Linked DNA regions of Homo sapiens: all the other regions are reported to be linked to region 1. Evidence: microRNA targets listed by miRTarBase, many of them from high-throughput screens and not tested one by one. Region 1 holds a microRNA gene; each other region holds the end of a gene's coding sequence.

What was found. The annotated mature microRNA hsa-miR-6881-3p reads AUCCUCUUUCGUCCUUCCCACU and lies in region 1 at 4,754-4,775, shown strand. An mRNA with a match to its seed (bases 2 to 7 or 8) in the 3' UTR can be bound and repressed. Matches are read on the target gene's strand: a 7mer-m8 pairs with bases 2 to 8, a 7mer-A1 pairs with bases 2 to 7 and ends in A, and an 8mer does both.
Region 2: miRTarBase lists GATD3 as a target of hsa-miR-6881-3p. The part of its 3' UTR that is shown has no 7-base or 8-base seed match.
Region 3: miRTarBase lists RAPGEF6 as a target of hsa-miR-6881-3p. Seed matches in the 3' UTR shown: 7mer-m8 at 1,801-1,807.
Region 4: miRTarBase lists RBMS3 as a target of hsa-miR-6881-3p. Seed matches in the 3' UTR shown: 8mer at 6,338-6,345.

Annotation. Positions count from the first base shown.
Region 1 is chr15:74,409,018-74,416,135 of GRCh38, reverse strand. It overlaps MIR6881 (microRNA 6881), which reads left to right and starts at 4,704; the gene lies at 4,704-4,779. It overlaps SEMA7A (semaphorin 7A (JohnMiltonHagen blood group)), which reads left to right. Exons shown (of 14, transcript NM_003612.5): 8 at 151-335; 9 at 1,190-1,298; 10 at 1,391-1,589; 11 at 4,124-4,251; 12 at 4,426-4,580; 13 at 4,780-4,841; 14 at 5,151-6,847. The coding sequence ends at 5,512. RefSeq lists enhancers at 3,486-3,986, 3,987-4,487, 6,493-6,752, 6,396-6,896.
Region 2 is chr21:44,143,809-44,150,926 of GRCh38, forward strand. GATD3 (glutamine amidotransferase class 1 domain containing 3) reads left to right here. Exons shown (of 7, transcript NM_004649.8): 7 at 1,013-1,903. The coding sequence ends at 1,141. Among named protein-coding and RNA genes, the nearest start is that of LINC01678, 12 kb to the right of the region's middle. RefSeq lists an enhancer at 2,395-3,054.
Region 3 is chr5:131,420,833-131,427,950 of GRCh38, reverse strand. It overlaps RAPGEF6 (Rap guanine nucleotide exchange factor 6), which reads left to right. Exons shown (of 28, transcript NM_016340.6): 28 at 660-4,030. The coding sequence ends at 685. LOC105379173 (a long non-coding RNA gene) reads left to right here and starts at 5,249. Exons shown (of 3, transcript XR_007058929.1): 1 at 5,249-5,941.
Region 4 is chr3:30,003,335-30,010,452 of GRCh38, reverse strand. It overlaps RBMS3 (RNA binding motif single stranded interacting protein 3), which reads right to left. Exons shown (of 15, transcript NM_001003793.3): 15 at 67-6,597. The coding sequence ends at 6,591. Among named protein-coding and RNA genes, the nearest start is that of RBMS3-AS1, 73 kb to the right of the region's middle.

The sequences.
Region 1 (7,118 bases):
TCCTGGGGCACCCCCGGCAGGTCCTGGCCCCTCACAGCCTGCCTTCCTCCTCTGGGCCCAGGTGTTGATATTGCTGGCAGTGGTTTCCTGGGGTGTGTGGGGAAGCCCGGGCAGGTGCTGAGGGGCCTCTTCTCCCCTCTACCCTTCCAGGGGGACCAGGGTGGGGAAAGTTCACTGTCAGTCTCCAAGTGGAACACTTTTCTGAAAGCCATGCTGGTATGCAGTGATGCTGCCACCAACAAGAACTTCAACAGGCTGCAAGACGTCTTCCTGCTCCCTGACCCCAGCGGCCAGTGGAGGGACACCAGGGTCTATGGTGTTTTCTCCAACCCCTGGTGAGTGGCCCTTGTCCTGGGGCCGGGGCTGGCATTGGTTCAGTGTCCAGTAGGGACAGGAGGCCTTGGGCCCTGCTGAGGGCCTCCCTGGTGTGGCAGGAGCAGGGGCTGCAGGCTCAAGAGGCTGGGCTGTTGCTGGGTGTGGGGTGGGGGGACAGCCAGTGCGATGTATGTACTGTTGTGTGAGTGAGTCTGCACTCATGGGTGTGTGTGCATGCCCTATATGCACACTCATGACTGCACTTGTGCCTGTGTGTCCCACCACCTGCTTGTGCCGAGAGTGGACACTGGGCCCAGGAGGAAGCTGCTGAAGCATCTCTCGGGGAGCTGGGTGCTATTACACCTGCTCAGGCACTGCCTGAGCCCGATAATTCACACTTCTTAATCACTCTCATTGATTGAACACACGGCAGGCGGAAGTGTTGGGTGTGTGTGGGGAGAGTTAGGGATAGAGTGGAGGAAGCCAAGACCCTGCTCTGTGGCTCCTGGGTGAGTGGGGTCCCCCAGGCTGGGAAGGGGTTGGGGGTCTGGCCTCCTGGGGCATCAGCACCCCACAGCCTGTGCCCAGGGAGGGCTAGAGAACTGCTCAGCCTATGATGGGGTTCCTCCTGCCTTGGGGTTGGGTAGAGCAGATGGCCTCTAGACTCAGTGATTCTGTAACAGGATACAAGTTTGTGGTTTTAAATTGCAGCACAAAGAAATTAGGCTGAACTCCTCTCCTTCCTCCTCTCCATCCCTCCCCATTTTCAGTGGTGGTTGGCAACTCAGTGCCAGGCACAAGGCTGGCCTGGGTGAGTGGAGGTGGATGGGTGGGTTCTGGGCCCCCCATTGAGCTGGTCTCCATGTCACTGCAGGAACTACTCAGCCGTCTGTGTGTATTCCCTCGGTGACATTGACAAGGTCTTCCGTACCTCCTCACTCAAGGGCTACCACTCAAGCCTTCCCAACCCGCGGCCTGGCAAGGTGAGCGTGACACCAGCCGTGGCCCAGGCCCAGCCCTCCTTCTGCCTCACCTCCCACCACCCCACTGACCTGGGCCTGCTCTCCTTGCCCAGTGCCTCCCAGACCAGCAGCCGATACCCACAGAGACCTTCCAGGTGGCTGACCGTCACCCAGAGGTGGCGCAGAGGGTGGAGCCCATGGGGCCTCTGAAGACGCCATTGTTCCACTCTAAATACCACTACCAGAAAGTGGCCGTCCACCGCATGCAAGCCAGCCACGGGGAGACCTTTCATGTGCTTTACCTAACTACAGGTGAGAGGCTACCCCGGGACCCTCAGTTTGCTTTGTAAAAACGGGCATGAAAGGTGTAAGGAATAATGTAGTTAACATCTGGTTGGATCTTTACATGTGGAAGGAATAATTGAGTGACTGGAGTTGTCAGGGGTTAATGTGTGTGGGTGTGGAAGAGTCAGGCAGGGAGAGCTTCCTGGAGGAGGTAGGGGCAAGAGGGAAAGGGGGATGGGAGAAAAGCAAGCACTGGGATTTGGAGGCGGAAATCTGGAGAGTCTGAGCAAAGCCAGGTGCACCTTTGGTCCAGATGTCTGACTCAGGGAAGAAGATGGTAGGAAGAGACGTGGCAAATGAGGAGGAGGGGCCTGAACCACAGGGATACTGGCCTCTGCCAGGCAGAATGAGGGAGTCAGGCCCTGCGCCTGTCTTTGGGATTGTGCAGGTGAGAGGAAACATTTGAGGAGTTGATGGGGCACAAATTAGGTATGAGGAAGGAGTTCCAGGGGGCAGAACCTTTGCCATCTCACAGAGGACAGGGGCAGCTTCTCTTCTTCCCTGGAGTAGGCCCTGCTGGGGGAAGCTGGGTGGAATGCCGTGGGAGATGCTCCTGCTTTCTGGAAAGCCACAGGACACGGAGGAGCCAGTCCTGAGTTGGGTTTGTCGCAGCTTCCCATGCCAGCTGCCTTCCTTGAGACTGGAAAGGGCCTCTAGCACCCCTGGGGCCATTCAATTCAGGCCCAGGCGCCCAACCTCAGTTGTTCACATTCCCCATGTGATCTCCTGTTGCTGCTTCACCTTGGAACTGTCTCGGCTTTGGTGACCTTGTAGGAAACTGGAACCCCAGCACCATTGTTTGGCTCCTGGAAGCCTTGGGGAGAGGAATTTCCCACAGGGCAGGGCCTGGGTCCTGATTCCCTGCCTCTTTACTCCCTATTCATCCCGGCTACACCCTTGGGCCCCCATCCTTGCTTGGCTCCAGTAGTGGCTGGCACAGCTGTTGTGGTCAGCCAGGGATGGCAGGGCACTGGGGAGCAGAAGAGGAGAGGTCACACAGTGCGGAACTGGGAGCAGGAGCTAGGACAAGGAAGGCTGGACTTGGGCCATGGATTCCCTTCCTGCAGACTTGGGAGGTGAGCACACTTGAGTGATTAGAGAAGGTGTCTTCGTTCTAAGGGCAGTGGAGGAGGCACCATTTTGGAGCCTGCATCATTCGTATTTGGGCTAGACTGAAAAATAGAGCTTTCTAAGTCCTCTGCAGAGAATGGGAGGCTCTCACAACTGGGAGAAGTATTGGCTCTTTTCCTGAGAATTTTGCCAAGGGTATGCTGTTACTGGGGCTGGTTTGGAAGGAGGTATAGGGCAGTATGTCTGTGAAGGCAGTGGCTGGGGTGGGGCCTTATCAGGCCCAAGGAGCATCTGGCCACATCTCAGAGTCCACAGATGAGGATCACGGATGTGTAGAGGAAACATCCTAGGCAGGCAATCATCTGACTGCTTTTTTGGGGCAGGTGATGCCCTGGGAAATTGGGAGGGAGGGAGAGAGGGAGGTAGGCTATTCTAGAAACTGGGAGAGCAGGTGAGGTAGGATTGGGAGGACCAGGGGTCAGGGTGCCCATTGGTCCCTAATTGTGAACGGAGAGAGCATTGGTCTAGGAGGCAGGCAGCTCGGTTATAAGACCTTGGGAACTCTTGATTTAGAATCCAAGATCCTTTTTAGATCTAAGATTTTATAAAATTAAGATATCCCCTAAGATCAAATGCAACGTGGAGTCCTGAATTGGATCCTAGAACAGAAGAAGGACATTTGTGGAAAAACTAGTGAAATCCAAATAAAGTCTGTAGTTTTGTTAATAGTAATGCACCAATGTCAGTTGCCTAGTTGTGACAAATATACCGTGGTTATGTAAGATGGTAACATTAGGGGGAACTGGAGAAGGGTAGATTGGAGCTCTCTGTACTATCTTTGCAACTTTTCTGGGAATCTAAAATTACTCCAAAATAAAAAAAAAATGTATTTAAAGTAAATATATTCCCTAAGAGTCCAGGAGGCAGGGGAGTTGTAGAAGCAGCTGAGTGGTTGGGCTCTGACAGATTTGGGTTCCAACTCGGTCTCTGCTGCTCACCAGCTGTGTGACCTTGAGCAAGTGGCTTAGCCTTTCTGAGCCTGATTTCCTTATCTGTGGAGTGGGGAAGATGACAGCCACCTCGCAGGGCTGTGGAGGGTTAAACGAGGTGATGCATGGACAGCAGCCGCACTGACCTTGCTGGTGTGGGGCTCCTGCTTCTGTTCTTCCCGTGCAGCCTTGGGAATGTTGGAGGCCGTATCCAGGGACCCCTGGGCCTCCTGGGATGGCCTCTCTGGATCAGCCTTGGAAGGTTCCAGGCTGCCCTTAGGCTCCCACATTCTTCCCCAGTCACGCTCTCCTCGCCCTGCCCACACCAGTCCTGTGACCCTTGCCTGAGTTGTGACTTCCCACCCCTCCCCGGCCTAGAGGAAAGCTGCCTGGCCCCTCAGTGGGACTCCCGCCCACTGACCCTCTGTCCACCATACACAGACAGGGGCACTATCCACAAGGTGGTGGAACCGGGGGAGCAGGAGCACAGCTTCGCCTTCAACATCATGGAGATCCAGCCCTTCCGCCGCGCGGCTGCCATCCAGACCATGTCGCTGGATGCTGAGCGGGTGAGCCTTCCCCCACTGCGTCCCATGGGCTATGCAGTGACTGCAGCTGAGGACAGGGCTCCTTTGCATGTGATTTGTGTGTTCTTTTAAGAGCTTCTAGGCCTTAGGGCCTGGACATTTAGGACTGAGTGTGGGGTGGGGCCCGGGCCTGACCCAATCCTGCTGTCCTTCCAGAGGAAGCTGTATGTGAGCTCCCAGTGGGAGGTGAGCCAGGTGCCCCTGGACCTGTGTGAGGTCTATGGCGGGGGCTGCCACGGTTGCCTCATGTCCCGAGACCCCTACTGCGGCTGGGACCAAGGCCGCTGCATCTCCATCTACAGCTCCGAACGGTACGTTGGCCGGGATCCCTCGTCCCTGGGAGAAGGTGGGCATGGGAGAGGGGGAGGTGTTGTCGGGCTGGAGGAGGTGGCGGTACTGGGCCTTTCTTGTGGGACCCTCCTCTCTGCTGGAACTGCACTGGGGTAAGGATAGGAGGGTCAGGTCTGCAGCCTTGTATCTGCTGATCCTCTTTCGTCCTTCCCACTCCAGGTCAGTGCTGCAATCCATTAATCCAGCCGAGCCACACAAGGAGTGTCCCAACCCCAAACCAGGTACCTGATCTGGCCCTGCTGGCGGCTGTGGCCCAATGAGTGGGGTACTGCCCTGCCCTGATTGTCCTGGTCTGAGGGAGACATGGCCTTGTCCTGTGGGCCCCAGGTACATGGGGCAGGATACAGTCCTGCAGAGGGAGCCCTCTTGGTGGGATGAGCGAGACGGGAGAAAAAAGGAGGACGCTGAGGGCTGGGTTCCCCACGTTCATTCAGAAGCCTTGTCCTGGGATCCCAGTCCGTGGGGAGGACACATCCTCCCCTGGGAGCTCTTTGTCCCTCCTCACGGCTGCTTCCCCACTGCCTCCCCAGACAAGGCCCCACTGCAGAAGGTTTCCCTGGCCCCAAACTCTCGCTACTACCTGAGCTGCCCCATGGAATCCCGCCACGCCACCTACTCATGGCGCCACAAGGAGAACGTGGAGCAGAGCTGCGAACCTGGTCACCAGAGCCCCAACTGCATCCTGTTCATCGAGAACCTCACGGCGCAGCAGTACGGCCACTACTTCTGCGAGGCCCAGGAGGGCTCCTACTTCCGCGAGGCTCAGCACTGGCAGCTGCTGCCCGAGGACGGCATCATGGCCGAGCACCTGCTGGGTCATGCCTGTGCCCTGGCCGCCTCCCTCTGGCTGGGGGTGCTGCCCACACTCACTCTTGGCTTGCTGGTCCACTAGGGCCTCCCGAGGCTGGGCATGCCTCAGGCTTCTGCAGCCCAGGGCACTAGAACGTCTCACACTCAGAGCCGGCTGGCCCGGGAGCTCCTTGCCTGCCACTTCTTCCAGGGGACAGAATAACCCAGTGGAGGATGCCAGGCCTGGAGACGTCCAGCCGCAGGCGGCTGCTGGGCCCCAGGTGGCGCACGGATGGTGAGGGGCTGAGAATGAGGGCACCGACTGTGAAGCTGGGGCATCGATGACCCAAGACTTTATCTTCTGGAAAATATTTTTCAGACTCCTCAAACTTGACTAAATGCAGCGATGCTCCCAGCCCAAGAGCCCATGGGTCGGGGAGTGGGTTTGGATAGGAGAGCTGGGACTCCATCTCGACCCTGGGGCTGAGGCCTGAGTCCTTCTGGACTCTTGGTACCCACATTGCCTCCTTCCCCTCCCTCTCTCATGGCTGGGTGGCTGGTGTTCCTGAAGACCCAGGGCTACCCTCTGTCCAGCCCTGTCCTCTGCAGCTCCCTCTCTGGTCCTGGGTCCCACAGGACAGCCGCCTTGCATGTTTATTGAAGGATGTTTGCTTTCCGGACGGAAGGACGGAAAAAGCTCTATTTTTATGTTAGGCTTATTTCATGTATAGCTACTTCCGACTGCATCTGTATGAAAATACCAAAACTACATGCGGGGGGGTGGGTGGGAAAGGGAGGGGCTGGGAAGGGATGGGTTGGGGAGCGGGGGTGATCCCAGTCTGAGGCTCCCGGGGATGAGATAAGAGTCTGGAGACGGGCATGGGTTCTTGGAGAGTGGCATGAGCTGGCTCTGCCCTGGGAGCCCGGTCTGAGGGGGACGTTGTTGGAGCCCCTAGTGTTGGGGGTGGTTATGGGAGGGGGTGGGGTGAGGGAAACGGGAGAATGAAGGAGAAAACTGAGCCCTAGTTTCACCGTGTTCATTTGGAAGGACGAGCCGGGTCCTCAGGGGGAGGTTCCAGGACTCTGCCCTTGGCGTTGAGGGTTGGGGGGCGGGGGGCCTCCTCCCTTCCTCTCAGCCCCCTTCCCCAGGGGCTGTGCTTCCATGCTCCTAGCCTCCCACCTTCGCTCAGGACATGTTATAACTTAGGCTAAACTGTGAAAATTCCGGTGGGGATGGCCTGGGCCGAGCTCTCCAGGCAGGCGGCCCTGCCCCCAGCCCTGTCCATCCATTTCAGGGGGGAGCTGGGCCCTTCTCCGGCTGTGTCTGGCCACCCAGGGCAGTGGCTGGGGCCAGTGGCCTTCCAGCTTTGGCCCCTGCACCTCTTCTCAATGCACTTTAATAATGTAACATATTACTAATAAACAAGCTATTTATTTACCTGCGCCTGTTCCTTGCCTGCAAAGCTGTCCTGGTCAGGGGGTGTTGGTGGGGGCTCCTGTTTATTACTCGCCACCCCCTGGCTGCGTGAGCATCACATGCATTCTTTCATGTCCTGGTTAGGGCCCAGGAGCCAGCTCAGCAGGGCTGTAGCTAGTGAGAGGCAGGAATGGGGACCTGAACCCACGACTCCTCAGCAGCGTGCTGCTTGCTCGAGCCTTGACCCCAGAGCCCCAATAGCACGTGCACCCCTTTTCCCCATTCCCAGCCT
Region 2 (7,118 bases), not on the chromosome of region 1:
AAGGGGCTTCCTGGCTTCATTTGGGCGGAAGTTCTCAGGCCAGTTTGGGTGGCCAGGTGATTCAGCCAGCCTTGCGGCCCCCAGCCCCTCCTGTTGAGGTGTGTACCCTGAGTTCTGAGATGATGGACCAAGAACACCAGCGGGGCTGTTGCCCAGGGAGATTTGGAGGGAGGCTCCTGGAAGGCCCTGCCTGGATCTGGGAGAATGTCCATGTGAGCCCAACTGAGAGAACAGAACACTCCGGGGTGCCGGAAGGCACTGGAATGAGTAGAGCATGGACCCGGTCCCCTGCAGGTGTTGTTCTGAAGGGTGCAGTTCCTCTCAATGGGGCAGCTTTTTTCTCACAGGCAGCTTCAGACGTCAGGCCCCATCTCCCTCCCTGCGGCTTTCCTGCTGGGCAGGAGCGCAGTGCAAGGCTGGCCCCAGGCCTCTGACTGCTTGCAGGAAGATAGGGGCACGTGTCTTGGGTGGTGTGGAGGCCTGGCCAGTGGTTACATGCATGGTGTTGGGGAGGCTCAGGTCTGTGGCTGGCCGGCCCCAGTTGTGCCACCTGCTGCCCTGTTGCCTGTTGCCCTGCCCCATGAGGACCGGCTCCTTCACGGCCAGTTCTTCATCTGAAAAGCGGAGGTGCTGCCACTGCCTCCCGTGGTGGTTGTGAGCACCCCAGGCATGTGTGCGCCCCCATGGCGGGGCAGCTCGTGGCCATGTGTGGGTGTTGGGCCTGTGTGATGCTGGCATGAAAGGTGCCCCGTTCCCTGGAATTTCCCGCTGCTTTCTTCCTCTAGAATGCATGTGAATTGGGAACAGGTTCCTTCTTATGTTGTTCAGCAGCATAAATCATACAGAAAGCAGGGTCCTGCCGGCACAGACTGCACCAGGAGCGAGTTCTCCTCTTCCAAGTTATCTGAGAACAAAGTTAGGACACGCGGTGAGGGTGGGGGAGGGGCCGGGGCTCCACACCTGAAAGTCCCTCAGGTCCGTGCTGGGTGGCTTTTTCCGTAACTCTGCACACGAAGCTCACGTGGACCAGAAAAACAAGGTGGTCACGACCCCAGCCTTCATGTGCGAGACGGCACTCCACTACATCCATGATGGGATCGGAGCCATGGTGAGGAAGGTGCTGGAACTCACTGGAAAGTGACGCGCATGGACGGGGCCCAGCTAGGCGCCAGGACTTGGCCTCACCCTCTGGCTGAGGAGCTGTCGGCTGCTTTCCATCCAGCTGGGAGTCTGGCAGGCCCTTTTTTTTTTTTCTTTGCCGAAACCTGCAGGCGTTCTCTCTCTAAGGAGGATGTGCTGCAGTGCATGGGGGATGTTTCTTCCTGGGTGTGGCTGGGCTGCTCTCACATACAGAGGCCGAGGGGCCAATTCGTTCTCTGCCACAGGGACTTGCCTCACTGTGTCCCAAAAACAAATCGCAGCCAGCTTTTCCAGAAATAGAAAATTCTGCCGTCTGAGGTTTTATACTTCAGGTTAGTTAGTTTTTGGAAGGAAGAACATTTTTAGGTTTGCAAGCCTCCTGATCAGGAAACCAGAAATACCACATTTATGGACCATGAAAGGTTGGTTCTTGACTCTGAAGGGACTTTTGAGTTAATCAGCGTAAGGGGATTTCTAAAGCAGGCAATCCCTGTAGCCGCAGAGAATAAACGCCTTCCCAAAATGGCAACTTCCCACAGCCACATTTCAGACCTGCTGAGACTGCTGAGTGAGGAATGGCAGTGAGGTTTCTTCAATTAGTCTCAGTTCTCTTAATTTTCAGGAAGAAAGGGAAATTGCAGCCCCTCAGCCCCCAGGATTGACCTCTGGGGAGTGATGGTAGCGTTGGTGCCAGGCCGTGGGTTCAGGTGTGGCAGAAGCTTGCAGATGCGTCCGAAGGGAAATAAAGTGTGTTGGCGTTAGACTTTGTGCTGCATTCATCTGTGTGTTCAGGGTTGTTTGGGGAAGAAAACATTTGGGGTGGGAGTCAGGTGTCTGCACGCTTCACTCAGTGTCACATATCTGTTGCTGTTTGGGTCTGTCTCTGCCTGAGCAGCCAGGGCCAGGCCAGCCTGAGAGGCCCCACGCTGGGTGGGTGGCAGGAGCTGCCCAGTGTTGGGTGGCGGTGTGGGAAACGCCCACTCTGGCTGCTGGCGTGGCTGTTCCGTGTGGTCTGGTTTGCACCTCCCTGTGTGTCAGGTGCTGGGCCCGGAATGGGGGTGCAGGCCCTGGTCCCACAAGACTCGAACCCTCAATTGCACTGGTACCCACCACACCCCCTCGGCCCTCCCCACCCACTGCATGGAATCAGCGGATTCATTCTACCGCCTTGAGAGGGCGTGGGGGGCCCATGGGTAAGGCAGGAAGGCCCCGGTGCACCCTGCATCGGGTCTCAGCCGGACACTTCTGGTTCTTCCTCCGTGGGAGCTGGGTTCTCCAGTGGCCTTCCTCCCACGGAGGCCGGGCCTCAGGAAGTCCTCACGGGCGCCCACGCCCGCTGCAAACGCCCACAGCACTCGCCTTGGGGCCAGGATTACCCTGTCCCCAGCAGCGGAGGAGCCTCCCATGTCCAGGGTAAGGTGGGGCTCCTCCCCTTTCTCATAGGCTGGTAGGGACACATTTTGCATGGCTGGAGGGGGGGTACCCGTATACCACGCATGTTTATTCACGTGTGTGTGAGTGTATGGAAAAGTGCACAAGTCACAAGCATTCACTTTGGGGTTTCCACAAAGCAAATACGCAAAACCATCGCTCGGGCCTGGAACGGTGGCACTGTCCCCAGAGCCTCTCAGCCTCCTGCAGGCACTGGCTGCGTGCTTGTTTGCGCGCTCTCTCTGAGGTGATCCAGTGTGGCGCCCCACACGCAGGTGCTTCTGCTGGGCCAGGCCTGTCCTCACCTGCATCTGCCCTTAGCCCAGGTGGCCCTGTGGGTCCTCAGTGTCCCCACTTGCAGATGAGGCTTTGCTCCCCCCAGGGCCCTGCAGCTTGTAGGGCTTGGCTGGGACTCAGCTCCGGGCAGCGCAGCACCAGAACCCCAGCCCTAGAAATAGATCTTGGGACGTTGGGAAGCCCAGAGAGGGGCCGTGACAGAACCGGAGAGCTTGGTCCTGGGTTCACTGCAGGAGAGTTTGGTCCTGGGTTCACTGGACAGTGACTCCGTGGCTGCTGCGTGCCAGGCACCTTCAGGTACCAAGGGCATTGTCACGAGCATGCCCTCGTCCTGGAGTTCAGGTGGGGGCAGCCAGTATGTGGCCCGGTGAGCCATGGAGTCCCCCTGGCAGTGGTGGGGGTGTGGACATGCTGGGAAGGAGGATGGCAGTGCCAGGCATGCATAAAGTGATCAAGGAAGGGGACAAGGGGTCCAGTGGGAACAGGAGCTAACCAGGGGTTCAAGGTCAGGGCGTGGGGAGGGAGGGGCGCTGGTGACATGCATGGTTCCCGGGACCAGCCCGTCCTGCCATCCCAGAGGCCTCTGCATCCCACAGGCTGTGCACCCTGGAACGTGGTTGTGGCTTTAGGTGCTGCCACCAGGGGGCGTGGCAGAACTGTCTTTGGGGCTGACCACGGGCAGGCGGCCCCTCACCAAGCTGCTTCCTGTTGGTGCCATCAGAGTCTGGGCTATCCTCTCCTGAAGCCCTCTCTGGTCTCCACATGCCCCACCCCTTTGCCCTGTCCCTCTTGTTTCCTTCCAGGGTACCTCCTCACCTCCTGTCCAGGTCACCAGAGCTTCACCTGTGGACATGCCCCATTCCCTGATAATCCTTTCTTCATTCTCCATTTCTCCACCACTCCCAGCTCCCCCAGCACTCCCAGCTGCTCCACACTCAGTCCCCTGCTCCACACTCAGCCCCCAGCTCCCCCACCATTCCCAGCTGCTCCACACTCAGCCCCCAGCACCCCCACCACTCCCAGCTCCTCCACACTCAACCCCCAGCACCCCCACCACTCCCAGCTGCTCCACACTCAACCCCCAGCTCCCCCACCACTCCCAGCTCCTCCACACTCAACCCCCAGCACCCCTACCACTCCCAGCTCCTCCACACTCAACCCCCAACCCCCCCACCACTCCCAGCTGCTTCTCCATTCCCACCTGTTCTTCCTTCCTGGTGTTCTTCTCCCCAGACCTGGTCTGACTGTCCCTCCCAGTCCCTCATTACCTGGGGATGGACGTCTTCCGCTCTGACCTCCAGGCTCTCTTGAAGGCTGCTCCTTCCCTTTCTCCCCCTGAGCTCCTTGCTGTCTCAGACCCCTGCCCAAGGAGGCCTGTAACTCCAGCCCTTCTCTGTGCACTACACTTGGAGTGGGGTACCGCCCACTCAGCATATCCAGACTGGGCCCCCCACGCGTACTTCTTCCTGTCTCTGTCTTGGGGGCCATCATGTGCCCAGATCCCCATGAGAAACTGGTCCCAGCCACCTGTTTCTCCCTGCCCCTCCCTCTGCCGCCAGCTATGGGTTTTGCCTCCAAATATGTCCAAGCCACCCCCTTCCTCTCCTGTGCCTAGACCGGGTTCATGCCTACTCCCCACATCTGGTCCTGACACCTTCCATCCCTCCCTCCTGGGACGACCAGCCCCCCTCTTTGTATTACTGGCTCCCCTTGTCTCTCGGCTCTCAGCATCACTCTGCAGAGAGGACTTCCCAGCACGCCCTGGCTGAGGAGGGGTCCCTGGGCCACTCGCTGCACAGATCTCGAGGTCTGTGAGTACACATGTATCACAGCTTTGTCATCTGTCTCCCCACTGCACTGGGAGTGTCAGGAGAGAGGATGGGGGCCTCATGGGTGCCCTCCACCTTCCCCGGCCAGGCCCGGGCTCTGAGGTGGTGGGCTCTGGGCATGAGCAGGCCAGTGCGTGCTGCGAGGCCCAAGGCTCACGGACCTGACACGCCCACCTTGGTGCCCGCCCTCTCCCAGGCCCCTCCCACCTACTGCTGGCCAGCGTCTTCCTCTAGGGCTCCCTCAACATCACCTTTTCTGTTTTGTTTTAAATAGACTTTATTTTCTAGTGCAGTCTTAGCTTCATGGCAAAATGGAGCAGAAGGTACAGAGAGTCCCACACACTCCCTGCCCCCACGCATGCACGGCCTCCCTCACCATCACCCCCGCACACCCCCGCCCGCCAGAGCACACATTTATTAAGGCAGCCAACCCACACGGATGCGCCATCACCCCGAGTCCACGGCATCCGTTAGAGCCCACTCTTGGTGTTAGCCATTCCGTAGATTGGGACAAATGTAGGACACGGGTCCGCCATTTACAGAGAATGCAAAATGGTTTCATTGCCCTGAAAACCCTTGGCTCTGCCCGTTCCTCCCCCACCCTCCACCCCCGTAACCACTGATGGTTTTTACTGTCCCCACAGTTTTGCCTTTTCCAGAATGTCATGTGGTTGGACTCATGCACTATGTGGCCTTTTCTGATTGACTCCTTTCGCCTGGTAATAGCATTTATATTTCCTCTGTGTGTTTTCATGGCTTGACAGCTCATTTCTTTTTAGTGCCGAATAATATTCCATTGTTTGGCTCTACCACAGTTTATCCATTTACCCTCTCTCAAGAGCATCTTAGGCTTGTCCCAGTTTGGGGCATTTATGAATAAAGCTGCTATAAACACCGGTGTGGAAGTTTTGGTGTGGACATACATTTTCACCTCTTTTGGGTAAATCCCAAAGGGGATTTACCAGGGAGTGTGATTGCCGGATCATATGGTGAGAGTTTTGCAAGAAGCTGCCAAACTGTCTTCCCAAGTGGCTGCACCATTTTGTGTTCCCACCAGCAATGAATGGGCGTTCCTGTGGCTTCACGTCCTCACCAGCATTTGGTGGTGTTCGTGTTTTGGATTTTGGCCAGCTGATAGGTGTGTAGTGGTATATTGTTTTAATTTGCTATTTCCTACTGACATATGATGCTGAGCCCCTTTTCATGGCTTATTTACCATCTGCGTATCTTCTTTGGTGAGGTATCTGCTCAGAATGTTTGCCTATTTTTAAATTGGTTGTCCCTTTTCTTTTTGTTGAGTTGTAAGAGTTGTTTGTAAATTTTGGCTCGTAATCCTTTCATGGATATCTCATTTCTAGTTATTTTCTCCAGGTTTGGGGCTTGTTCTTCTTATTCTCTTGACAGTGCCTTCACAGAGCAGTTTTTAATCTTAATGAAATCGAGTTTCTCACTGGTTTCTTCTTGGATTGTGGTCCGCCCCCGCCTTATTAAAAAAAGAAAGAAAGAAAGAAACAGGGTCTCACTGTGTTGCCCAGGCTGGTCCCAAACTCCTGGGCTCAACTGATCCTCCTGCCTCAACCTTCCAAAGTGCTGGGATGCCAGGTGGGAGCCACTGGGCTCAGTCTTGTGTTTTTAAAACTCATCACCAAACCCTCGGTCATCTAGATTTTCTCCTGTGTTATCTTCTAGGAGTTTGATAGTTTTGCATTTCACATTTAGGTCTGTGATCATTCTGAGTGAATTGCTGTAGGGGTGGAATGTGTGTGTTGGGATTCATTTTGGGAATGTGAACGCCCCGTTGTTTGGCTCCATTTGGTGGAGGCTGTGCCCCATTGCATTGCTTTTGCCGCTTTGTCACAGACCAGTTGACTCTCCATGCGGATTTGTTTCTGGGCTCTCTCTCCGCTTTCACTGGTCTGTTTTGCCAACACCCTGTCGTGAGTACTGTAGCTTTATAGTAAGTCCGGAGCCTGCCAAGTCTTCAGAGTTGTAATCTGCCCCTATCAGATGTCCAAACCATGCCCCCAGGGCCCTGAGATCAGATCCCCAGGAGGGCCTGGCTGGAGTACCCATAGCCCTGAGCGCCAGGAGAGCAGGGTCTGCCTGCTGTGGGAGGTCTGTCCTCGTGAGGCCGGACACCCAGCCCTGGTTGTCCTGGTCCACCTGGTATGACCCTGCCCTGTTCCTGCTTCTCCCAAGCACCCGTGACCCTGGGAAGCCTGTCACAAACACCTCCCTGGACAACCCATGCTACAGAGTGCACCACGCCAATTGCCACCACAGCCTCAGGCAGCACTGTCACCCACAGCAGAGGCCGCCCTCACAATCTCACACTTCAGGAGCCCAGGTGGGACGCTAGCCAGGGTCCCTAGAGGTGGCTTTGCCGGCCCAGGCAGCCCCATCTCTCCGGGACCCCGCTGC
Region 3 (7,118 bases), not on the chromosome of region 1:
TTTGTATTTGAGACAGCATTTTACCATGTTGCCCAGGCTGGTCTTGAACTCCTGGACTCAAGCAATCTGCCAGCCTCAGTCTCCCACAAAGTTGGGGTTATGGGTGTGAGCCACTGTACCCCGCACTGATGGTGTATTTTTTAAATGAAATGGGCAAGCTGCCTATTTCTGTGTGCCTAGTACCCTGTGGCTCAAATGGAATATTCTTATCTTTGATGAAACAGTGGCTCAATCTAATGGGATACTTTTAACATTAATGGAATTGTATTTTACCTTAATGCATGGAAACTTGAAACTGTGTTTCAAATGCCAAATTATCTGAAATGATTCTATTGATATAGTTCCTTTTATTAGCAAAAGTCTTGACTGACTTTGTACCTGTGCCAATAGTTTGAGAAATGATTGTTTTATTGAAAATAAATGAAAATTTATGCTTTTAAACAAGAGTAATAAAATGATTAAAAACCATGAAATTCCAGTTTATTGTCAACCTTCAATGTGATCAGAAATCATAGGTATTATTATAATAAAATCTGGGCCTCGATGCAATGTTTGAGAGGATTTCTTTGTTGACATTGATTTTCTAAATAGATAACTAGATTATTAGGATCTCATTAATATGCTGATCTGCCAGTTAATTATATATTTTTTATTTTCAGAAAATGAACAAGTTTCAGCAGTCTAGCCTTTGGATGACCTATTTGAAAACCACTGAAAGTCGTGGAGGAATGGGCAAGAACCACCTCATGATTCTGCAGGCCATTGCTAACGAACAGCTCATTGCTACAACCAGTCCAGAGGTTTTATTCCCTCTACTCCGAGCAATGAAATAGACCTGAGTTATGCTTCCTTTCATTTAATTTCTGCAGATAAATAGTTTCCTGAGCAATGGATGCTATGCCTGGATACCAGTCTCCACTTTGCACGCCGGAACTGCCTTGGGACCACAGTTACAGAAAAAATGTAAACTCAGAGTGATCCTTGTGTATATTGCTATAGATTTTTCTTTAACAAGCTATTTTAAAGATAATGGCATTATTATTTCCAAGCCATAGCTTGGGCTGAAGGACAAATTGAAATTGTCTGCCAATACCAAGGATATTCTTGTATATTTGAAAAATAACTTATTATTTGAATTGTTGTGGTTTTGTTTGTATTTGAGAGCTCTTGTTAGCTGATATTCATGTTTGAGGTCATAAAATTGTCTCTGGTCTGACCAAACAGAAGTCATCTTTACAGAGGTGATATGCTTGATCTACACAGAGATGTGACTTGATCTGTAGCACCAATGCAATGTAGGTCTCAGTTTGAGAGAAATAGGAAGCCCTTTGCAGTTGAGGTGTTAGGAACCTGCTGGTCATGGTGTGGAAGGCCAAATGAAGCTGCCACAGGGTTTCTTGTCAGTCCTTTGGGAAATGGGAGGGAGTAGTTTGGGGAGGAGGGTGGGAACCCTAATTTCCACAGAATGAAATTTTGATGTTAAATGACATGTATACAAATTCTTCCTTAAGTGAAAGTTATGCTGCATCGAATTGTAACTGAAAGTATAGATCCAACAAATAGAGACTGGGTTCTAGAGAGTTCTGGTCTATAGAAACCCAAAACTAAAATCTCTCATAACTCAAGTATGGAATACTTTTTTTAAAGAAATTCTTATCATGGGTGTTGTAATAATGAAGACGAATTTGACTTTATGCAGTGTTCTGCAGCATGCCTCCCCCACATCTCATAGCACCAGGTTGTGTCTGACCTGACATACCCTGCAGCTCTCAGCTGGCTGCAGTAACATTTTGTGGGAGAAAGAGGAGCTGGAGTTACAGAAATGATTGTCTCTTGGTTCTCAGTTTTTAGCCCTTGAGAGGACATACTTTTCCAGCCTCATGGGTATGGCACTCTTAATTAAAATTTCAGTGACTGTTTACTGGATGAGGCAGATTTTTCACATTTTTGCAAATTAAATATATTTTATATATATTAAGTTTAATTTTTTCAGTTTTTTTAATGTAAAAGCAAGTGAAATTTTAATAAACTTCTGTAATTACCAAAAAAAAAAAAAAAAAAAAAGCCAAAGCCATTAACGTGCACTACCCAGATCAACTTGGAGCCAAAAGGGGTTTACTTCTGAATGGCTGTCCGTATGTGTCCACATAGGATTTAGTTGGTTTGTGGCCTCCTTTATAGAAATGTGTTGTCTTTCCCTAGCTGTCTCTGCTGTCTGTCTTCCTGCATATCCCCCTTCATTTTAAAATCATGAATCAGTTGTAAGTGGTAAATGGTAGTAGTTCATCTTTCCCATCAACATGATTGTCTCTTTATTTTAGGAATAATAGCATTTCAAAAATTCCTGTGGTAAAGAAACATTAATCTGAAACTTAAGCCTTAGAAATTAATCGCAGGTATGATAGAATGAGGCTTGGTGGTTCCATAGCTTTCTTGGTCCTTTGAAATGGGAAATAACCTGAACCAAAAATCCTAGTTTGAAAGTTACACTTCAGTGATTTGGCCTATAAACAGTGGTCCTATGATTATACATTTTTTCCTTCACTGATTTGCATAATTTTGTTTTCATGGCCACAGCAAAACAATGTGAAATATATTTTTGCTATACCCACTTTTTTTATCAAATTCAGATGTCTACTCTCACCATTTTATATTCATTTCCCCAGAAAAATGTGCTGTTTTCATAATGTCTTTATTTAGCAGGTCTTTCAAACCAAATGGAAGCCTTACCTGTCTTTGTCCTTAATAGTGTAAATATCTTGCACAGAGTGTTGAGGCCTATGGTTTTGGACTTGCACCTTACAGCTGCCTTTGTTTTATCTATCTAGCTTTAACTGTGAGTGTTCAGATCAGCTGATCACATTGATCAGGAGCCAAAGCCAAATGCTTTGTAGTTTGTTATGTATGTATCCCTTAAAAAATCATGAGGTTTTGATTTTTATATTTTAACTAAGGGTACATTCCTGCCTTCTCTTAGTTTGTCATATGACTAGAACAAGAGAAGTCTTAAGCTGCATTTACTCCAATTCCAGATCTCCATTTGTTTTTGTTTTATAAATTTATAATCTTAATGAAGAGACTAGTGCCCTCTCTTCCTGCCACAACTCTCAATCTGCCAAGACTGTTGAAGCAGTTAACGCTCAGTGCAAACTTTTGCCAAATAGTAAGTTTCAACAAAATATCTTTATAGTGAAAGATTTTGAGAATTAGTAAATCCAGTACATGATTCCATAAAAGCTTATTAAAGTTAATAATTCTAATTTACTCCAAATGATTACTTTCAATATGATCTTTGGGGAGAAAAAGCCTTTAGTGAATTTTCTTGAGGGTGATAAATCACATCATTGCGATCTATATCACCTCCTTGAGAATCTCTCCCAGGCTGAAAATGTGATGGTAATCATGGGTGTTTTTAAGAACAAATCTAATTTTTATCAAGTGTTCTTTCCTCTACAAAAAAGGAAGGAGGAGAAAAAGCTTCCTTAAAACTGATTATTTTGATTCAATTTTAAGTTTCTAAAAAAGGTGATATTAAAGTATATGTATTCCTTCAGCATTACCTTAAAGGCTAGAAAAACGGGATAAATCTTCAGAAAAGTGTCAAAAGTGTCACAGTACATGTTCAAATTTAAACTTGAATCCTGGTTCATCTTTGACTTTTGTTGTGCATTTTTAATGCTTCTTTATTTTTGATACACAGAATGCAGTTGAACTTGATCTTTTAAAATTGAGACATGTAAGCTAATCAGCAAAAGACAGAAACAAAACTGCACATCTGTAATAATCAGATAGCAATTCTACTGCACAATTCATTGATTGTAAGGTATCCTGTAACAAGCAATGTTTGTCTCCTATTTTTTGATACCTCTTAAACTTATGTCTTTTAGAAAGACAGTGCCTCTGTATGCTTTTTGTATTTTTACTGAGTGTAAATATTTGTTATATTTTTGGTTAAGAGAATGTAAAAATACCATTTATTATTATCATATCTACTAATACATTGGTGGAATCAATAAAGAATCTACATTAATCTTCTCTGTACTTAATTATAAATGTATGGAACTGATGAAATAATTACAAACTTAGTCATTCGAGAGTGCCAGTCTGGGACCTGTGTTGGTGTGAAGGCCTTATTTTTTAACTATCCAGAAAAATTGGAGTGGTCCATTTGTTGTTGGTTATGTCAAATCTGTGAAACACCATAGCTATTGTTTAGGTTTAAAAAATTGTGTTTGATGGCATACCAAGTTAACAGTGGCTTAAACTCAATTGGGGCTTGTCTTTTTGTTATTGTTGTCTGTTTCTTTTTCTTCTTACAGTAGAAAAGTCTACAGACAAAACTGTCCGGGGCTGATACTGTAACTCCTCCACGATGCTGTCAAGGATGGCAAAAGTAGGGGTGAAAAGGATAGGCTTAGGTAAGGAAAAGGTGCAAATATGTGTCTCTTTCTACGCAAAGAGAACAAAACAGTAGTTTCCAGAAGCTCCACTTGCATGTTTGTACTTACATCCCATTAGTTAGACCTCTGTTGCATGACTGGTAGCTCCAAGGGTGCCTTGGAAATTATCTATTTTATCTGAGCAATTGATGTTCCTAACAAATTTAGGACTCTTCAGTGAAGAAGGAAAGAATAGATTTCAAATGGGCAGCCAGCTGGGTCTACGAAAGCATGCCTATTGCCCCCTCTTTTGGGCAGTATATGTAAATACAGCCACTTTTATGGGATTAGATCCCAGGACCCTGGCAAAGTAGAAGGAAATTCTACTTTAGCTCCTTTTTTAAAATCTCCTCACAGTTTTCCCTCGGTACCCAGAGAATGTTACTCCCATTATAGCTAAGACTTCTACCTTCTTCCAGTTCACCCCCTCTTCACCAGGTTTTCCCAGGCCATTCTGTCCCCCTGACCATCTCTCCACAGTCTCACTAGTTTCTTTATTTAGAAAATATATTTCTTCACCGGGCATGGTGGCTCACGCCTGTTATCCCAGCACTTTGGGAGGCCGAGGCAGGCGGATCACGAGGTCAGGAGTTCAGGACCAGCCTGGCCAACATGGTGAAACCCCGTTTCTACTAAAAATACAAAAACTAGCGGGGCATGGTGGCGGGGTCGTGTAATCCCAGCTACTTTGGAGGCTGAGGTAGGAGAATCTCTTGAACTCAGGAGGCGGAGGTTGCAGTGAGCCAAGACTGCACCATTGCACTCCAGCCTGGGCAGCGAGCAAAACTGTCTCAAAAAAAAAAAAAAAGAAAAGAAAAAATACACATATTTATATTTGTATCAGATGGCACTGGTGAAATGAAATTTTTTTTAAGTAGAAAATAAGTATAATTGAAAAACGGCTACCCCAAAATATCAAGCTCTAATCCCTGGAGAACTTGTAAATATTACTTTATTTGGAAAAAGGGTCTCTGCAGATGTAATTAAGCATTTTAGAGATGAGATTATGAGTGGGGCCTGAATGCCATCACAAGTGCCCTTGTAAGAGAAACAAAGGAAGATACCAGAAGAAGGCAACATGAAGATGGCAGAGAGGGATGTAGCCACAAGTCGAGTAATGTTGACAGCTTCCAGGAGCTAGAAGAGACAAGGAAGGTATTCTCTCCTAGAGCCTCTAGAGGAAATGGTGCCTTGCCAACATCTTGATTTTGGATTTCTGGCCTCCAAAATGGTGAGATGATGAATTTCTGTTGTCTTAAAGCCACCCGATTTGTTGTAATCTGTTACAGCAACTCTAGGAAACAAATGCAAGTTACTATATATGTCTGATGTCAGAAATCCAGTCCCTGCAGTTAAGGATGTGTTGGTCCAGAAATACACTTCCTTTAACTTCTTCCACCCCCAAGAAGCACTTGATAGACGAAGAGAAGAACTGGCTCTCCCAGAAGGTGCCTCTGGAGAAGCCTGGTCAGCCTATTATTTTTCTCATTTCAGACATTCTGGTAAGTATATACTGGTATCTTGTGGTTTAAATTTTAATAGTGACTAATAATGCTAGGCATCTTTTCAAATACTTATTGACCATTTGGACCATTTTGTGAAGTCTATTCAGGTCTGTAATTGTTTACTATTTGTTGCTACAGTATTGAACTATTGATTTTTATAATGACCTTATATCTAGCTCTCTTGCTCAGTTCATTTATTAATGCTAACAATTTGTGGATTCTCTTGGAATTTTCTGCATACTCATATCTGTTCATAATAACTTATTTATTTCTAGTCATTTTGTATTTTCTTTTCTTGTCTTTTGTTGTTGTTGTTGTTGTTGTTATTGAGACGGAGTCTCGCTCTTTTGCCCAGGCCGGACTGCGTGGTGCTATCTCGGCTCACTGCAAGCTCTGCCTCCCAGGTTCACGCCATTCTCCTGCCTCAGCCTCCCGAGTAGCTGGGACTACAGGCACCCACCACTGCGCCTGGCTAATTTTTCGTATTTTTTTTTTTTTAAGTAGAGACAGAGTTTCACCGTGTTAGCCAGGGTGGTCTCGATCTCCTGACCTCGTGATCCGCCCGCCTCGGCCTCCCAAAGTGCTGGTTTCTTTTCTTGTCTTACTGCACTGGCCAAAATGCCCAGTATAGTGTTGAATAGAAGTGGTCAGAGTGGGCCAGATCCAGTGGCTCACACCTGTAATCCCAGCACCTTGGGAGGCCGAGGTGGGAGGATTGCTTGAGCCCGGGAGTTCGAGACCATCCTGGACAACATGGTGAAACCCCATCTCTACAAAAAATTAGCTGGGTGTGCCAGTGCACAGCTGTGGTCCCAGCTACTTAAAAGGCTTAGTTGGTAGAAGGATCACTTGAGCCTAGGAGGTGAGCTTTGATCACACTACTGCATTCCAGCCTGGGTGACAGAGTGAGACCCTGTCTCAAAAAGTGGTCAGAATGGAATTCCTTTCTTTGTTCCTGATCTCAGCGAGAACGCATTCGGATGTCACCGTTGAGCATAGTGATTGCTGTAGGATTTTGGTGGTATTTATGAGTTTAAGGAAGTTTTATTTATACCTTGCTAAGAAAGTATATGCTGTTGAATTATGTCAAATGCTTTTCTTGAATTTATTGAGATGATCAAATTATTTTTCTCTTACCTGTTAGTCTAGTGAATTAATAATATATTTCATAGTG
Region 4 (7,118 bases), not on the chromosome of region 1:
CCTATCAGCCCTCCTCCCACAACCAGTCTCTGGATGAGTGCAGAAAAACACAACAGCCCTATTCAATTGATTTTATTTTCATTTTTTATTGAAAGCTTCATCAAAGAAAACAGAAGTTTAAACCTAACATCCACTGATCTACAGAAAGCCCAAGGGATGGGGGAGATGGTTGCTAATTTGACTGTGGTACAGATGAAGAAATTAAAAATAAAACCAGAAACACCTTAGAATTACAGAACTTTCCATGACAGTCAGAGACAGCAGTACAAAAATGCTCTTAAATAAAGTTCAAAATTGAATGATGTTTCAGAAGTTCCATGAAGTTGAATATGGACTGAAACAAGGGTTTTAAAAGAAGCTGTGTCCCTTTTTTTTTTTATAGAGACTGAATATCTCATAGCAGATACTACTACATATATTTTTTTAAATTAAGATTCCATTTTTCTTCTTCTTCTTTTGAAATAAATGGAAGCATTTGTGTCCAGAATAGAGAAAACTTTTTCAAATATCTTTTTGAAATAATTTTTACAGTTCCTGAAAAGCATGGAATAACTTATTTTTTTATATATGAAGAGATAACATATTTGAGGGAGGAGGAAAAAACATCTTTCTCAATAATCTTAGACCAGAGGGTTTGAAACAAAATATAACATTAAAGTTACACTTTGGACATTGTTTAAATTTGATGTGATCATAAAAATAATCCACGGGGGTGTCAAAGTCATTCGGCCTTAATAAGTAACGCAGTCAAAATGTAATGAAAACAATGCAATAGTTTTGGTCAAAGAAAGATTTAAAAATATGAATATGACTGTACCAAGAGCTACCGTTATACTCTCATTGCAGAAGTCGTGTTGATCCGTGCTACTGGTTCAAATTTAGTGGAGTGAAGGAAACAAAAATAGCTTTCTTTTGAGGGAAGCTGAATTCTTTGCTATGATTTTTTTCCCATATATTCTGCAAGAATTTAGCCAACTCTCAATTATTTGTGGTAGATAAGAAAAGACATTATAGATAATCAAAATTTATGACATATAATGTACTGATATTAATTTTACCAATGATTTCAAACCCCCTTAAGAAATTAATACTTTATAAGAAATAAAATAATCAAATTTTATTTCCAATTGTTTGTTCCACCCTCAGGTGACATGCTAATAAAAGGAAACAGAGCCCAAGCCCTACACGCTGAAAAGAAAAAACAAAACACACCCACAAAGTAGATAATTAGCCCTTCAAAAATTGAGAGTGATTGTATTTATGCACAATTTAGAAATTGGGGCAGTAGTAAGAAAAGCTCAAGTATGACTCAGTGGCCTAGTGGTTCTTCCTGCAGATCCAAGCTTGACTGCACCTCTACTTCAGCTTTAAAGCTTTCTAAGTGGAAGAAAATTTTCTTGATATATTATTTTCCCTCACAAAAATAAACAGAAATGAATATTGAAAGCCATTCATCCCTTTTTTGCTATAGAGAGTATCTATATGTTAGAGTATAAAGCCAATGATAAAAGAAATTAATCTGGGGTGAACTCTTGTCTCTCACATCATAAAAGGTCTTTGGGGCCAGTTGGGGATTTAGTGTTTAGTTTTTGTACTTTCCTGAATGCTATGTAATCCGCAAAGGACAGCCATGACCAAGAGCATTTGGATTAAAGGACCAATTTCATACTTAAGAATGTTTGGTAAGAAATGTTAAACTTGAGTCAGACCCAACTGTCTTCCAATGCCACAGTGGATGTCATTTGTAAAACAAATTGATTCATTAATGAAATCCCATTATCACTTGCCACAGGAAGGGTAGAGTGTACAGAATCAATGAGCCTGTTTAAATTCTGTCAATCCCTCAGATTGAAGTGAGAGGCTGTCAGTCCCAGTAAGCTCAAAATTTTGAAGCATGCCAGCTACAATAACATGAAAGACAAAATCTCATCCTTCACTTTTTACTGAAGACAAAGTAATATAGATCAAGGTTCTATGACAGGTTTAAGCTTTATTATAGTGTGTGATTCCTCAAATGTGCTGAATGTTGTTATACACGTACATAAACATTGTCCCTTTACTTGATTTCAAATCATATAAAAAAACATTTATTAGTGAAACCCACTTGAGAATTTCTGCTTATCAGCTCATCTGCAGTGGTTCATGCACTCAAATTAAGAATGAAAATGAATTGCCAAATGTATTTTAATCTCCTATTAACATCATAATGTCTAGACAGCCTATTGAAACTTCTCCTCAGTCGTGAAGATGACTGCAAGAGTCCTAATTAAATCAAATTTCACTTTTCATTAATAGGGGTTTTAGGCCACTGTAAAAAAAAATAGGTATTTAGCAAATATCCCAATTATTTAAATAAAGAGGTTTTTTTGGGAAAAAAAAATTACTTTTTTGGAGTCATGCATAAATTGAAAGTACTTTTAAAGCACTTTGCAAGGGGTCCAAAGATGTATTTTTAGGCATAGTAAAATAAAGTGAAATTCCTGCTTTAAACAGCCTTCTTCAGTTCTCAGCCTTATATTTCTAATGAGAGTGCTTTTAACACCATGCAGTTTTTCATTAGAAGGGGGTGGAAGTGAGTCATATGCTTTCAAATGTGACAGATCTGCTAAGGTCACAGGAGGAAGTAATTCAAGTGAAATTTGGAGGTAACATTCTGAAATGTTGAAATCTACCAAGGAAACAAACTAATCCTCGCAAAACTAGAGTCAGGTAGAGGACTGTTTTAAAAGAGTATTATGACATTTGCAATATTCAAGACATGTCAGCATTCAAGGACAAACTGTCATCAGCACCTGCCAGTATGACCTTCAGTTCACTTGGGCTCATTACGTTGTCTTTAGAAGACATGGCCATGTATTGGGGAGCTCCAAGTTACCATGAACACTTTGCCTCCCTTGACAATACCATACCATTATTAAAAGAAAACTCACTGTTGCACTGACCATGAAACTAGAGTTTAGACGAGACAGTGTTTCTCTCATTTGGATTGTGGCTTTAGTTTGTTTCCTGATGTTTAAGCTAAGTCTTGGCTATTAAAGTCAAAAGGAAAAATGGAAACATCCAAATAAATGCTTGAAAATCTGGTGGACCAGAATGCACAGAAAATTAACTTCAACTTAAAGAAAAAAAAAAAGATTATAGTCCTAGTTAGGATGGGCGACAGAGCGAGACTCCGTCTCAAACAAACAAACAAACAAATCACTACAATATATTTTGTTGATTAAATTTGAATTCTGTTGTCTGTATATATTGAAAACTTATTTTGGTTTATTACCACACAATGTAATGCTGCTTACCTGTTGATGCTTTTTTTTCTCTCCCAGACTTGGCTCTTCAAAACAAGTCTTAGGTAAGACAACAGACAAAGCAGGGCAAATTTGAGTATGTGCCGTTGTTTTCCTTCTATTTTTTTTCTTTTTGGTTTGAAAACATACATTTTATAGAATGGCATGATATAAACTATCCAAACACAAAACACACATGAACACATCAAATGACAGGTCATTTCCTTTTGCAGAAACTGGCTTAAAAAATTGATATTGAAATTTCATAGTTGAAAAAAATATTTCTGAATGTACAAATAAAGCAGCAGTTTTGAATAGAAACAGGAAGTTACCTAGGCACATTCATTAGCCACATGGTAGCTACCTCTTAGCCTCATTGTTGATTGTGTGAATGAGACTTTCTTTGTATCACATTAATACATGTTTTTGGTTATTTTTTCACAAAAATGAAAGAAAGTATGTTGGTTTCATATTCAAATGAATTATGCCCAGGATAATCCTTATTTATACAAAAAGAGTTTAGAGAGTGAAAAAGAGAAACAGAAAATATGGTTCTCATACATGTCTTTTTGTACCCCAAAAAACTTTGGGGCCCACTTTTCAAAGATAAAAACTTAAGTGCCACCTTTATAATGCATGGGAAGCTGAAGGATGGAACAAAAGACAGTATAAATCTAGCATTTTCTCTAAAGCATGAAAAACCATAATGGTGAGTGTGACCAGTTGGAATTTCTCTATAACGCACACTACATTTTCTTGGATACACTTTTGTCTCCAATGTGACCATAAATATATGGAGTCATTCTCTGATTTGGGCTTCCAGTGCATGGGGTTGCAAATAAGAGAACCAGAGTTTACAGAAATAGTAGAATATTGACAATTTCACATGAGTCAACCTTATTACTCATGTTGACCTAATGGGAATATGATTTACCTTTAAAACTTTTTAGTTTTTAAAAAGCCTACCCTGTTTTATAGTACACTTAAATACATTTCCCTGCTTCTTTTGGACTAAGACAGGCTCCTGTGACTGACTTAGTTTTTGAAAAGAGTTTCACCTATTTGATTCAAAGGATTCATTCAGAAAGCAATCTAGTGAATGGTTCACTTAACAAATTCTATTCCATTGTCCTTAATTTCAGGTAAAACTGTAAAGGTTGAACACATATCATCTCATGAATTAAAAATGTAGATATATTTTACAGGTGGGTCAATTTAATTCATTTTAGACAAAGTTTTGCATTGTTCTAAATGCAAGTATTCCTCCTTGGCTTAAATGATTGATCAAACCTAATTCTTTTGGTTCTTATTGATATAAATCATACTGTTCCTTGATTGTCAACTAGCATTTTAAGGACTTCCCTAAATTCCACCAATAGAATTCTCAATCTTATTGGTCCTACATGCCTCAAAGAATTAAACTGAAAGAAAAAGTTCTTTCGGCAACACCAATATACAAAAATACAGTGAAAACAGGCAAAAAGATGATACCCCCTCCCCATTTGCAAAACCAAGGTGACTATTCATGGTAGGTGATGACAAAGACAGAGGTGTAAAGACAAAACCCAGAGGTGTTGTAATTTAGAGGGAAGACTATTGTTCAAATACAATGAGACCTTTCCAGGAGACCACTCACCATTTCACAGAATATCCCTAAGCTTTTTTGACAAATGACCTTTCAGACCAGGTCCAGAAAGTGTCTTTAGCTGAAATTTCATATAAAGAATATTCCACCTGTTAAATAAGCATCTTGGTTTACTAGTGGCCATCAATACAGGTTTCACTATTCAAGACAGCTAGTGAGAAACCAGAAAAGCTCACAGAATTTAAAGCCACTTGGCTCTATGAATCAGTTCATATCCAGAACTCTTCATGCTGAAACTGCTAAACACAGCAGGTACAAGCTTCTGCTATCAATGAATACACATTTAAAGAAAAGAGAGACAACTCCCCCCACCCTCTTTTTTTTTTTGCACTATGTAAAACACCAGTGGAAGGTAGTTTAAACAAACAACAAAGAAAGAACTGGTCCGGCCATGTCGGTCAAATAAATTTTTTTTTTTTTAAAAAGAAAAGAAACGAAAACAACCTCTATCTTCTGGACTGTAATAGGGTGTCACTTCATCTTTGGTATAAAATAGGCCATCCATAGGCTGAATTTGATCACAACTAGGAAAGACTACAGAAATTGTCAACAATTTCTCTATCTATTGCTTTTTTTTTGTTTTTTTTTTTGCACTTTTTGACCATAAGCTCCTATCTACTTAAGTTTTTTTTTTTAATGCTCTTAAGCTAGGTTTTGCAATGTGACAAGCAAAGCTGACTAAAAACTTTGTAAAGCTCATAAAAAAGACTGCAGATAAAAAGCACTAATGCTTTTGCTAGCGATCACGCTTTGTAAATTAAAAAAATCTGCATTCTGCCCCCCAAACACGCATTATTTCTAATGCAGTTGTTTTTAAACCAACCTTAATAACTTTACTGTAAAATGTTTTAGCCTTTTAGAATGATTCATGTCAACACTTAAGACAAAGTTCATGAAAAGTCCCAGCATTTTTCCAATTCTTGCAGTTGCCATGGTTTATCAACAAATTTTCTTCAAATGAAGAAAAACATTTTCATTTAAACTGTACAGTTTTTTCTTCACCCTAAAAACTCATAGTCTTAAACTTCTGTGCCAGTGAAAGCCGGCACAGTATTTCAATTCTTTCTTGATTTTTGTTTTCAACAAGACGTTGACAGCTTGCCTCGAGAGCCTTTGACGTCCTTAAAATTAAGGCAATTAAGATTCAAGATAAACCTTACCTACATATTTCTAAGAAAAAATAAAATAAAAAACCCACTAGATTAAAACAAGAAGGGAAAAAGAGAAAGTAGCTTAATTATTGAGGAAGACAATTTGTTTCCATTTCTATTGCCCACCTCTTGACATCAGGTTTTCTGTTAAAAAAAAAAAAAAAGTATCTACACCTTCAGAAAAATTCTGAATTCAATTCAAATGTTCTTCCACATAAAATATCAACCTTCAATGTTTTGTTTTTTGTAGTTTTTTTTTCCTCTTCTGGAAATTTTTTCTTTAATTAAAAAAATGATGGCAAAAATAAATTGTCAGACCACATGAAGACCATTTGCACAGCACATAAAAACTTTGCTTTCATTGGGTAAGGTATAACACTAAAAAAAAAACAACAACAACAACAAAAAAATGCATTCCATTGACGTCTGTGCAAACTGGAAGCCAACTTCTTGTTCAATGAAGTTTCTTCATTCAAGGCAAAGATTCAGACAGACATTCTTCAGTCCTGTTTATGGTCTGTGAAAACAATTGAATAAGAGTGGTCATTAAATTAAAGTAACTTTGAAATCACCTTCTGTGCCCTTTTCCAATGAGGCAGCTTTAAAAGATACCAAGCTTTCAATGTAACATAGTCACAAAAGCATCATAAAATCATACTGAGTCTATGAGATTGTCAAATTCTGCCACTTTCATTTAAATACAGATTTGGGCCAGAGAGTTTGTTTACATTAAAAATCAAGGGTAATAGCTTATGTTATAGCTCCTTACAGATCCTTTGAGTAATTCTGTTCCTTCAAAACTACTATAGGAATCATCACTAATTCCAGCAACAAATATGAGATTCTTTACTATGCACCCAAAATAACTGGGTTGTATGTTATCTCATGGTATTCATCACGTACATTTACATAAGGCTTATTGCCTGAGGAAATAAGTGAGACAGTTAAGAGGCCAATGCAGTTTTATTCTCTTTTCCTCTTCCCCTTCTCTACTTTCTTGTTCATTCCCCCTGTCAAGATTATAAATTTGTGAGAGCA